2 separate regions of the Homo sapiens genome follow, and region 2 is linked to region 1. The links come from fine-mapping of genetic effects on gene expression. Tissue or cell type: whole blood. Region 1 holds a variant in brackets; the other region holds the start of a gene. All regions are shown on one strand. Distances are from middle to middle.

Region 1 (5,325 bases):
AACTTATAAAGGAAAGAGGTCTAATCCCCAGTTCCACATGGCTGGGGAGGCCTCAGGAAACTTAAATTCATTGCAGAAGGCAAAGGAGATTTAAGCACCTCCACAAGGTGGCAGGAGAGAGTGAGCAAGAGGGAGGGGGGAAATGTCACAATTTTAAGCCATCAAATCTCGTGAGAATTCACTCACTGTCATGAGAACAGGGAAACTACCCCCATGGCCCAGTCATCTCACACATGGTCCCTTCCTCATCATGAGGATGATGATGATTACAATTTGAGATGAGATTTGGATGGGGACACAGAGCCAGACCATATCAGATGGGGCATGAATCTAAGTTATATTGGCCTTCGAGACCATGAGCTCAATCAAAAGTCAGCTCCTGAGCAGGAGCTCAACAAACTTTTAGGTAAAGAACCAGATATTTTAAATATTTTAGGCTTCCACGACACATGCATCTCTGTTTCTATTAGTCATTGTTCTCCAGAGAAACAGAACCAATAGGAGATACAGATATAGACAAACAGATTTAGTATAAAGAATTGGCTCACAGGATTATGGAGGCTGAAAAGTTCCACTATCTGCCATCTGCAAGCTGGAGATAAGGACTAAATTCCAGTCTGAGTCCAAAGGCCTGAGGACCAGGAGCACTGATGGGGCAAATCCCAGTACAGGGACAGGAAAAGGCCCAGCTCAGTCAGCCAGGCAGAGAGCAAATGCTCCCTTCCTCCTCCTCCTTGTTCTCTTCGAGTCCTCCGTAGACTGCATGATGACCACTGCCATTGGTAAGGATGGGATCCTCCTTACTCAGTCTACTGATTCAAATGCTAATTTCACCCCAAAACACCCTCACAGATGTACCCAGAAATAACCAGACCGGGCGTGTTGGCTCATACCTGTAATCCCAGCACTTTGGGAAGCCAAGGCAGGTGGATCACTTGAGGTCAGGAGTTTGAAACCTGCCTGGCCAACATGGTGAAACCCCGTCTCTACTAAAAATACAAAAATGAGCTGGATGTGGTGGCTTGTGCCTATAATCCCAGCTACTTGGGAGGCTGAGGCAGTAGAATAGCTTGAACTCGGGAGGCAGAGGTTGCAGTGCGCCGAGATCGTGCCACTGCACTCCAGCCTGGGCAACAGAGTTGAGGCTTTGTCTCAAAAAAAATGAAGTTTAACCAAATGTCTGTGCACCCTGTGATACAATCAAGGTGACACATAAAATTGACCATCACACTGTAAACCAAAAAGTACCTGAGACAGTTCTCAATCAATTTAGAAGTTTATTTTGCCAAGGTTAAGGACAAGCCCAGGAGATGGGTCTGTGCCTTTCTCCAAAGATGATTTTGAGGACTTCAGGATTTAAAAGGGGAGAAAGCAGGATGGAGGGGGAAGAGGGAGGCTGTGGTCACATGACTGAATCCCCATGTTGCAAGAGAAAGGGAGCAGGTAGGGGAATAGTAAGTCAGCACTCTCTGTAAGATAAGGTGAACATAGAGTAACTACCTGCAGAGATCTTTAACCTTTTATGTGTAGCTATCTGCTTAGGAACAAAAGGAAAGACAGATTCTTGCATGACTCAGCTTTCAGCTTCATTTTCTTCCTTCTGGCAGAGTGAACCAGGGTTCAAGTTTTTGTTTTTCCTTCACAATACTGTTGTTTCTCCTCTTCCCTTTCCTCCTCCTCCTTCTTCTCCTTCTTCACAACTCCTAAAAATGTAAAACCTATTCTTAGCTCACAAACCTTACAAAAAAGTTTGCCAGTTTGATTTAAACTGTCTCCCAAAATCTATGTCTCAATGACATGTTGTTGTTTCCTACAATATAGTGATGCTTGAGTGATTATCTAAAGAAAATAATTTATGGGTCGGGTGCGGTGGCTCAAGCCTGTAACCCCAGCACTTTGGGAGGCTGAGGCTGGCGGATCACCTGAAGTCAGGAGTTCAAGAGCAGCCTGGCCAACATGGTGAAACCCCATCTCTACTAAAATACAAACATTAGCCAGGCATGATGGCACATGCCTGTAATCCCAGCTACTGGAGAGGCTGAGGTGGGAGAATCTCTTGAACCTGGGAGGCGGAGGTTGGAGTGAGCCTAGATCACGCCATTGCACTCCAGCATGGATGACAGAGTGAGACCCCTTTCCAAAACAAACAAACAAGAAAATAATTTATGAAAGTCAAGAGCCTGATAAACAGTCACCACCCATTCGTAATCTGTGCTGCCACACCTCTAGCCAGCAGATCTGCCATCTTTTGAAATGAGTATCAACCTGGACATTCCCAAGTAAAGTGCCCACAACACCTAGGGGTTGTGATTCAAACAGCAATGGTTAGACTCAGGCTCTCTCTTGCTGCCCTCTCCTGGCTGGTCTATTGTTGAGGATCAGATGTGAATCCTGTAGGATTTCATGAGACTCAGGAAACCTTCAGGTCTGATTGCTGACCTGTAGACTTGTCAAAATTTCTACCAGTGGATAGTTCTTAAGGCTGGTCATGATGGCCGAGTTTGTCTGTTATTTCTTGTAGGGTGCTCCGACTTTCTTGAGTGTAAGTGTTATAGAAAAAGAATAGTTATCAGGCTGGGCACAGTGGCTCACACCTATAATCCCAGCACTTTGGGAGGCTGAGGCACGTGGATCACTTGAGGCCAGGAGTTCAAGACCAGCCTGGCCAACATGGTGAATCCCTGTCTCTACTAAAAATACAAAAATTAGCTGGGTGTGGTAGTTCCAGCTACTCAGGAGGCTAAGGCAGGAGAATCGGTTGAACCTGGGAGGCAGAGGTTGCAGTGAGCTGAGATTGCACCACTTCACTCCAGCCTGGGTGACAAAG[C/T]GAGACGCCATCTAAAAAAAAAAAAAGAAAAGGAAAAAAAGGAGTTATCGTATATTGAACATTTACTATGTGCCAAACACTGCTAAACAAATATTATTCCATTTCATCCTTAGAACGATCACATGAGATCCATATCCCTTGACTGTTCAGCATTACCTTCACACAGGTGATACAATGGATACTCAGAGAGGTTAATTTTTTTTTTTTTTTTTGAAGCGGAGTCTCACTCTGTCGCCAGGCTGGAGTGCAATGGCGCAATTTTGGCTCACTGCAACCTCCGCCTCCTGGGTTCAAGTGATTATCCTGCCTCAGCCTCACCAGTAGCTGGGATTACAGGCATGCACCACTGCACCCAGCTAACTTTGTAATTTTAGTAGAGATGGGCTTTCACCACGTTGGTCAGGCTGGTCTTGAACTCCCGACCTCAGGTGATTCGCCCGCCTCAGCCTCCCAAAGTACGGGGATTACAGGCGTGAGTCACTGCGCCCGGCCTTTTTTTTTTTTTCAGACAGAGTCTTGCTCTGTCGCCTAGGCTGGAGTGCAGTGGCGTGATCTCGGCCCACTGCAACCTCTGCCTCCCAGGTTCAAGCGATTCTCCTGCCTCAGCCTCTTCAGTAGCTGGGACTAGAGGTACGTAGCATCACGTCTGGCTAATTTTTGTATTCTTAGTAGAGACGAGGTTTCATCATGTTGACCAGGCAGGTCTTGAACTCCTGACCTCAGGTGATCCATCTGCCTCTGCCTCCCAAAGTGCTGGGATTACAGGCGTGAGCCATCGTGCCCGGCCAGAGAGGTTAATTAACCTGCTCAAGGATCACAGGTGGTAGAGCTGGAGCTTGGCATTCAGTCTATATTTATCTGACTCTAGAACTTGTGGTCTGAATTGCTACCCAAGGTTTACAATCATTTATGCAGAGTCTAATTCAGTAGGAATAGTGTGGTGCCAGAAATTTGCATTTTTGACAAGCACTCCAGGGTCCTGGAGAGCTACACTTTGAGAACACTTCCTGTCACAAATAGAAACTGCACGGCTTCCATTAGAAAGATGAAACTCTTTAGTAACAGAAGACTTATTCTGGGGTGGACCAAATGCTGGGCTTTCCCTCCTTCTTTGAGTAGAAGAGGAAGTTAGAAGAGGGTAATAAGATGCAAAGATTTCTTATCTCTTCCTGTCCCTCAGGCCTCCCTGCCCCCACCTAAGCCCCAGAAAAGTGCACCTCAAATGAATTTGCCTGAAGAGGTATAACATTGCCCTTTGCTGACAAACCCCTGAGCAAACATGTACTGGTTATTTGGTAACACTCAAAAGTCTAATCGTAGCTGGCCACGGTGGCTTATGCCTGTAATCCCAGCACTTTGGGTTGGGAGGCTGAGGTGGGCAGATCACCTGAAGTCAGGAGTTCGAGACCAGTCTGGGCAACATGGTGACACCCCATCTCTACTAAACACACACACACACACACAACACACCATCTCTACTAAACACACACACACACACACACACACACACACACACACACACACTAGCCGGCGTGGTGGTGCATGCCTGTAGTCCCAACTACTCAGGAGGCTGATGCAGGAGAATCACTTGAAATGGAAAGGCGGAAGTTGCAGTGAGCCGAGATCGTGCTACTGCACTCCAGCCTGGGTGACACAGCGAGACTCCCTCTCAAAAAAAAAAAAAAAAAAAAGGATCTAATGGCAGTTTTGGCAGTTCTTTTTTTGTTTTGTTTTGTTTTTGTTTTTGTTTTTTTTGAGACGGAGTCTTGCTCTGTCGCCCAGGCTGGAGTGCAGTGGCGCAATCTCGGCTCACTGCAAGCTCTGCCTCCCGGGTTCATGCCATTCTCCTGCCTCAGCCTCCCAAGTAGCTGGGACTACAGGCGCCCTCCACCACGCCCGGCTAATTTTTTGTATTTTTAGTAGAGACGGGGTTTCAATGTGTTAGCCAGGATGGTCTTCATCTCCTGACCTCGTGATCTGCCCGCCTCTGCCTCCCAAAGTGCTGGGATTACAGGCATGAGCCACCGCGCCTGGCAGCAGTTCTGAGGAACAGTTTGCTCAGGCTGTCAGATCTGGAAGTGTTCGTGGCTTGCTGAGCAGAGACAAGAGGACAAAGCCTTAGGTGTAATCTAAATACAACGGATTTGCAATGAAACAAGTGGCCTGGTCTCCAACCGTTTCTCCACACGCTCTGCCTTTCTGACAGCAAATCTATGTTTGGCAAGGAATGGGATGGAGACTTCTTCCCACCTGGTGGCCAATGTTTTCTTGAACCTCTATATCACCCTTCAGCTCCTGGGTGGGGTTGATGGTCATCCACAGAGAATGGGGGGACAATATACCTGTGAGGGCCCAGCCACTGGTCAGTGTTCAGCAGAGGAGAAATACAGTAGAGAAAGAGCAAGACTATGCCAGACATTGTGCTGGGTATTTGACTAACATGATTTAATCTTCCAATAACCCAGAGAAGTGTAGGGATTCCATCTTCATTTGCCACA
Region 2 (5,000 bases), 81 kb before region 1:
ACAGCCAGGCAATGTGACATAGGCTAAACACTAAATGAGTGATTTGTTTCCCAAATTACACTGGATTAATTCACACACTTCAAGATAAGATACTATTATGGAATGATTTTTATATATACATTCAACCAACATTTCCTAAGGGCCCACTATATGCCAAGCAACCCGCTTAGCACTTTTCCAACAGTGTCTCATTCAATTCTCACATTTTATAGATTAAAGATGTGAATCTGAAAGGGTGAAGTGACTTGCCGATGTCTACATATTAAGCTGCAGAGACGGGATTTAGAATCATGTCTTCCAACTCCATGTCCTTTCATGGGACGTTTTTTGCTTTTTCATTCATCCTATGGAATACAATAAAGTGTTCTGCACAAATGAGCCACCACCAACTGCCAGCCTGATATAACTAGATGCTTATCTACATTCTGAGACGGGACCATATCAGATCAAATTACTCTGGTGCCTATTATAGATCATGTGCTGAAAGAAGTGCAGTTGGCTGAAGATGAGCAACTCTTTCAAGTTATATTTTAACAGTGTTTTTGACCACTATATCCGGTCAGTTGTTCCAGTGTTCAGTAATAAATCAAAATGATTGTTCGTTTCCTTTGACAGTTAACAGTACTAATGAATTCAGTATAATCTCACCATCCATCAGAAAAATTTCTAAAATGCGAACTTGAAGCTGATGATTCACACAGTTAGAAGAGAGGGGGAAATAAAGCAGTACTCATTGTTTTCTACAAAACTAGCATTGTTTGCAAAATCCAGAAACCAAGCAGTTGGTTAACTACTAATAACAAGCAGGTTGCTCCTTGGTCATTTAGCAAAAAGCTGCTTGTTGCACCACAGTCGATGGCTGAGAAGCATATGACTTCAAGTAGCTTTTGCTGTACAGTAGGATTCCATACATATAAATCAGTGGATCGTTATGTAAGACAAGAAAAAAATTCAAAATCTTCACACCAGAAAGCACCTGACACTGAGTGTGGCACAAATCCGAATAAATGTATACTGAGTAAACCATGTCAGGGTCTTTTGAAAATATCAGTTGTCTATGAAATTGAGAGAAGAAAAACCAAATCACCTGAATTCATACAGGTTATGTTAGGAACTCAAAAATATGGAACAGCTGGCTCAAGATGTATAACAGATTCACAATGACCAAAAAAACAATGTTTACAAATGTTGAATTAAGAAGCATGAATTTGACATCTCTCTTGAATTAAGTCACCACACTGGCACCCAATGGAATGCTTATAGGCAATCTCAGTAGAAATAACAAAAACTGAAAGAACTGACGGACAGAGCTAACTTTCCAATCTGTTCAAAACAGAAACAAGATGTACTAGTGGACACCTGAATCCTGCCGTTTAAGCTTTTGTGCCTTCACAATTAAATAATAACCCGGCCGGGCACGGTGGCTCACGCCTGTAATCCCAGCACTTTGGGAGGCCGAGGCGGGCGGATCACTTGAGGTCGGGAGTTCGCGACCAGCCTGACCAACGTGGAGAGGACCGCCCCCCCCACCCCGCCCCCACAAAAAATACAAAATTAGCCGGGCATGGTGGCGCATGCCTGTAATCCTAGCTACTCCGGAGGCTGAGGCAGGAGAATCGCTTGAACCCGGGAGGCGGAGGCTGCGGTGAGCCGAGATCATGCCACTGCACTCCAGCCTGAGCAACAAGAGCGAAACTCTGTCTGAAAAAAAAAAAAAAAAATCCCAATATGCCAAAGCAGCTCTGTCAAAAACCTTCAACGCTCACAAACATATCTAGTAATAACGAACGACTCATTAAAATGTACTATCTGTTCAGAGAAAAAAGTATTAATATATCTACAATACGAGACTGGGCTCCAAGAATATAAATCCAAATTGTACTGATTGGTCTGAATAAGCATTTTCCAAAATGAACAACCTGAACCTACACCACGAATACATTTAATTAGTTATAAAGCTTAGGACAACGCTAGTGATCTCAAACATTAGAACGTAAGCGCTGAAGCCTGCTCGTTAGTTCCTTTTACCTGGAGCTTTAAATTTCTAAAGCCATCATCTCCAGGGACCTCTGAAGGAAATTCAAGGCCAAGTATAGTATTTCATGATAAGTGAGAATAAAGGCACTCAATCCCTGGAGCCGGCGATTCCTGTTCCTGTCTCTAGACTGGACTCGGTAAAAGCCCGAGGCGAAACCTCCCGTTTATCTCCTACAGGACCCCAGCACCTTAGGGGATGGCTCCACAGAGCCCCACCGGGACCCCCCATCGCGGGGACCAGAGGGGCGGAGGAGGGAGACACTCTCCAAAACAAAGCGCCGCTCGCCCCACGCGGAGGCAGGCGCACCTTTCGCCCTGACAGGACGCAGACACACGTGTGTCACCTGTGCGGGAAGGGGGAGCAGCGACATCCTCGGAGGTGCGTGCCACGGGCAGCGGTCGGCGGCTGCGCTGGCCCCGATGCCTGGTGCCCGCCGCTCATTCCCGGGCTGGGGAAAACTTTCGGCCGCCTCCCCCAAGGCGCGCCCCCACCTCCCGGGACCCCCGGGGCACGCGCCCCGACCGCGACGCCCCGCCCCAGGCCCGCCCCTCCGCGCCCACGGCTGCGGCCCCGCGCCCCCAGCCCCGCGCGGGCACCCGCGTGCCCTCAGGCGCGCCCCCGCGCCGGGCCCGGCCGGCAGAGGGCGGGGTCGCTCACCAGTCCGCAGCTCGTGCTTGACAGTGAGGAGCTGCTCTCCTCCGTCGCCGCCGTCCGCGCTGGTCCCCGCGGCGCCGCCGCTGCTGCCACCCTCCTCCTCCATCTTCTCCTTTTTTTCCGATCCCGCGGGTCGCTACGAGGGGAACCCAGGAGACAGCGGACGCCCGTCCCCTCGCAGCCGCTGCCGCGGCCCCAGGAGTCGGGGTGCGGCGGCTCCAGAACTCGGACGCAAAGACGAGTCTCTTTCCCGCTCTGGCCGCACGGCTCGCTCCTCGCCTCCTCCCCCTTCGGCGGGCACCGCTAGTACCGCGCAACCAAACCGCCCCCTGCTCCACCGCCGCCTCCTCAGGCCGCTCCGCCCACAGCCAGCAAGGTAAGGGAGCCATTCGAGCCGCCTTCGCTGATTGGACACAGGGCGCGCGCGTCTGCCAACGCCGGTTCCCATTGGGCAGTACGCTGTGACGTTTCACGAGCCTCCCCGCCTCGCTCCTCGAATTGTTGTTGCTTGGCGGGGAGGCAGGAGAGGGAGGAGCGCCGCCACTCCGATTGGTGAGACCCAAAGCTCTGCCCCGCCCATTTCCTCTGGTGCGCACTCGCAGTCAAGACCTTCCCTTCCCTGACCTCCCCAGAACGGTCACACCCCTTATTCCCCAGCTTCGATCTGTTAGTAAACAGTGTCTAGTAGTCAGGAGGCGCTCGGGGTCTCTGATTGGCTACTGCCGAAAGAGGCGGGGAGGGATGATTGGAACGTTTGGTCCGCCAATCACCGTGGACAGAGGAGGGGCCTGGAGGGTAGCGCTTATCACCCACGTGTTTGCAGACAAACCTAAGGGTCCCGGCAGCGATCCATGCGTGTGTGACAACCAGCGAGACGGCGTGCCCTAAAAAGGTCTTACTCGCTCTAGTGAACCCTAAACAAGTTAAGCAGAGTGTTTGTTCTTAAATAACAGATAGTTCTTAAACGTTACAAAAATTCACAGTCCCAGCTCCCGATGAGGAATTTTACGAAGGAGAGACATTTCTGTTTCGTACAAGACTCTTACTAGGCGCCGAAAGGATGCAGAGATTAACAAAATAGAATACAATTCCTCCCCTAAGCAGCTTTCAATAGAACGTGAGAAACAATCTGTGTGTGTACACAAAAGAACTATAAAGCAGAATTTGAAATAAAGCAGTCGTACAAAGCGTTAGAGAATCTCGCACGGATGGCAATAATTATTCCCAGACGAGGAACTGGGGAAAGCTTTTAGGGCAAGGAGGCATTTGAGATAACCAACGTAAAGGATGGATAAGAGAGAAATACCAGCAATAGACATTCCACACAGAGAGAGTAACTGTGAGCATTGGCCTACAGCAGAGAAGGCAAGGGTGGGTTAAGTGATTGATAAGGTTAGATGAAAGTATGATGTAAGAGATACAGCTGACAAGGTGAGGTGTGGTAAGATAATGGGGAACTAGGGATGCTGTGCTGAAGAGTGCAGATTTTTTTTAGTACACAGTGATGAACTGAAAAGAGGAGAGAGATAGCAGGGCAGGAATCCTGCTGCAAGGATAGAACTAAAGGGAACCTGATTTCTAGTAGCAGACACGAGAATGGGAAAAAGCAGAAACTTAAAGATGTACAGTTGGACGTAATTCAGATAGATGTGATCTTTTAAACTAAGCATGGATTGGATCAGGAGTCAGCACACTTTTTTCTATTAAGGGCCAGATAGTAAATATTTTAGGATTTGCAAGCTGTATGACCTTTTTCACAACTACTCAGCTCTGCCATTGTAGCGCAAAAGCAGTCATAGACAATAAATAAAAGAAGTAGCTGTGTTCCAATAGAATATTTTTTATGGACATTGAAATTTGAATTTCACATAGTTTTCATGTATCGTAATATATTCTTCTTTTAATTATTTTTGAATCACTTAAAAATATAAAAACAGGTCAGGCGCAGTGGTTCACACCTGTAAGCCCAGCACTGTGGGAGGCTGAGGCAGATGGATCACCTGAGGTCAGGAGTTCAAGACCAGCCTGGCCAACATGGCAAAACCCTGAATCTACTAAAAATACAAAAAATTAGCCAGGCATGGTGGTGGGCGCCTGTAATCCCAGCTACTCAGGAAGCTGAGGCAGGAGAATTGCTTGAATCTGGCAGGCGGAGGTTGCAGTAAGCCGAGATCACACCATTGCACTTCAGCCTGGGCAACAGAGCGAGACTCTGTCTAAAAAAAAAAAAATATATATATATATATATATATATATATATATATATATATATATATATATATAAACAATCCTTAGCTCAAGGGCAGTT

The links. PIP is the estimated chance that this variant, and not a neighbour inherited with it, causes the effect.
Region 2: RPS6KA5 starts here. The variant in region 1 is fine-mapped to the expression of RPS6KA5 in whole blood (TOPMed, PIP 0.96).

What each region holds. Positions count from the first base shown.
Region 1 is chr14:91,138,532-91,143,856 of GRCh38, forward strand. All of the region lies in intron 1 of DGLUCY (D-glutamate cyclase), which reads left to right. Among named protein-coding and RNA genes, the nearest start is that of SNORA11B, 15 kb to the left of the region's middle. RefSeq lists a silencer at 2,174-2,468 and enhancers at 3,605-3,704, 3,755-3,924. The variant C/T (reference allele first, on the strand shown) is at 2,828.
Region 2 is chr14:91,057,637-91,062,636 of GRCh38, forward strand. RPS6KA5 (ribosomal protein S6 kinase A5) reads right to left here and starts at 3,005. Exons shown (of 17, transcript NM_004755.4): 1 at 2,696-3,005. The coding sequence starts at 2,798. It also overlaps a transcript of DGLUCY not described here. RefSeq lists silencers at 2,458-2,527, 2,598-2,727, 3,098-3,157, 3,378-3,507 and an enhancer at 2,735-3,315.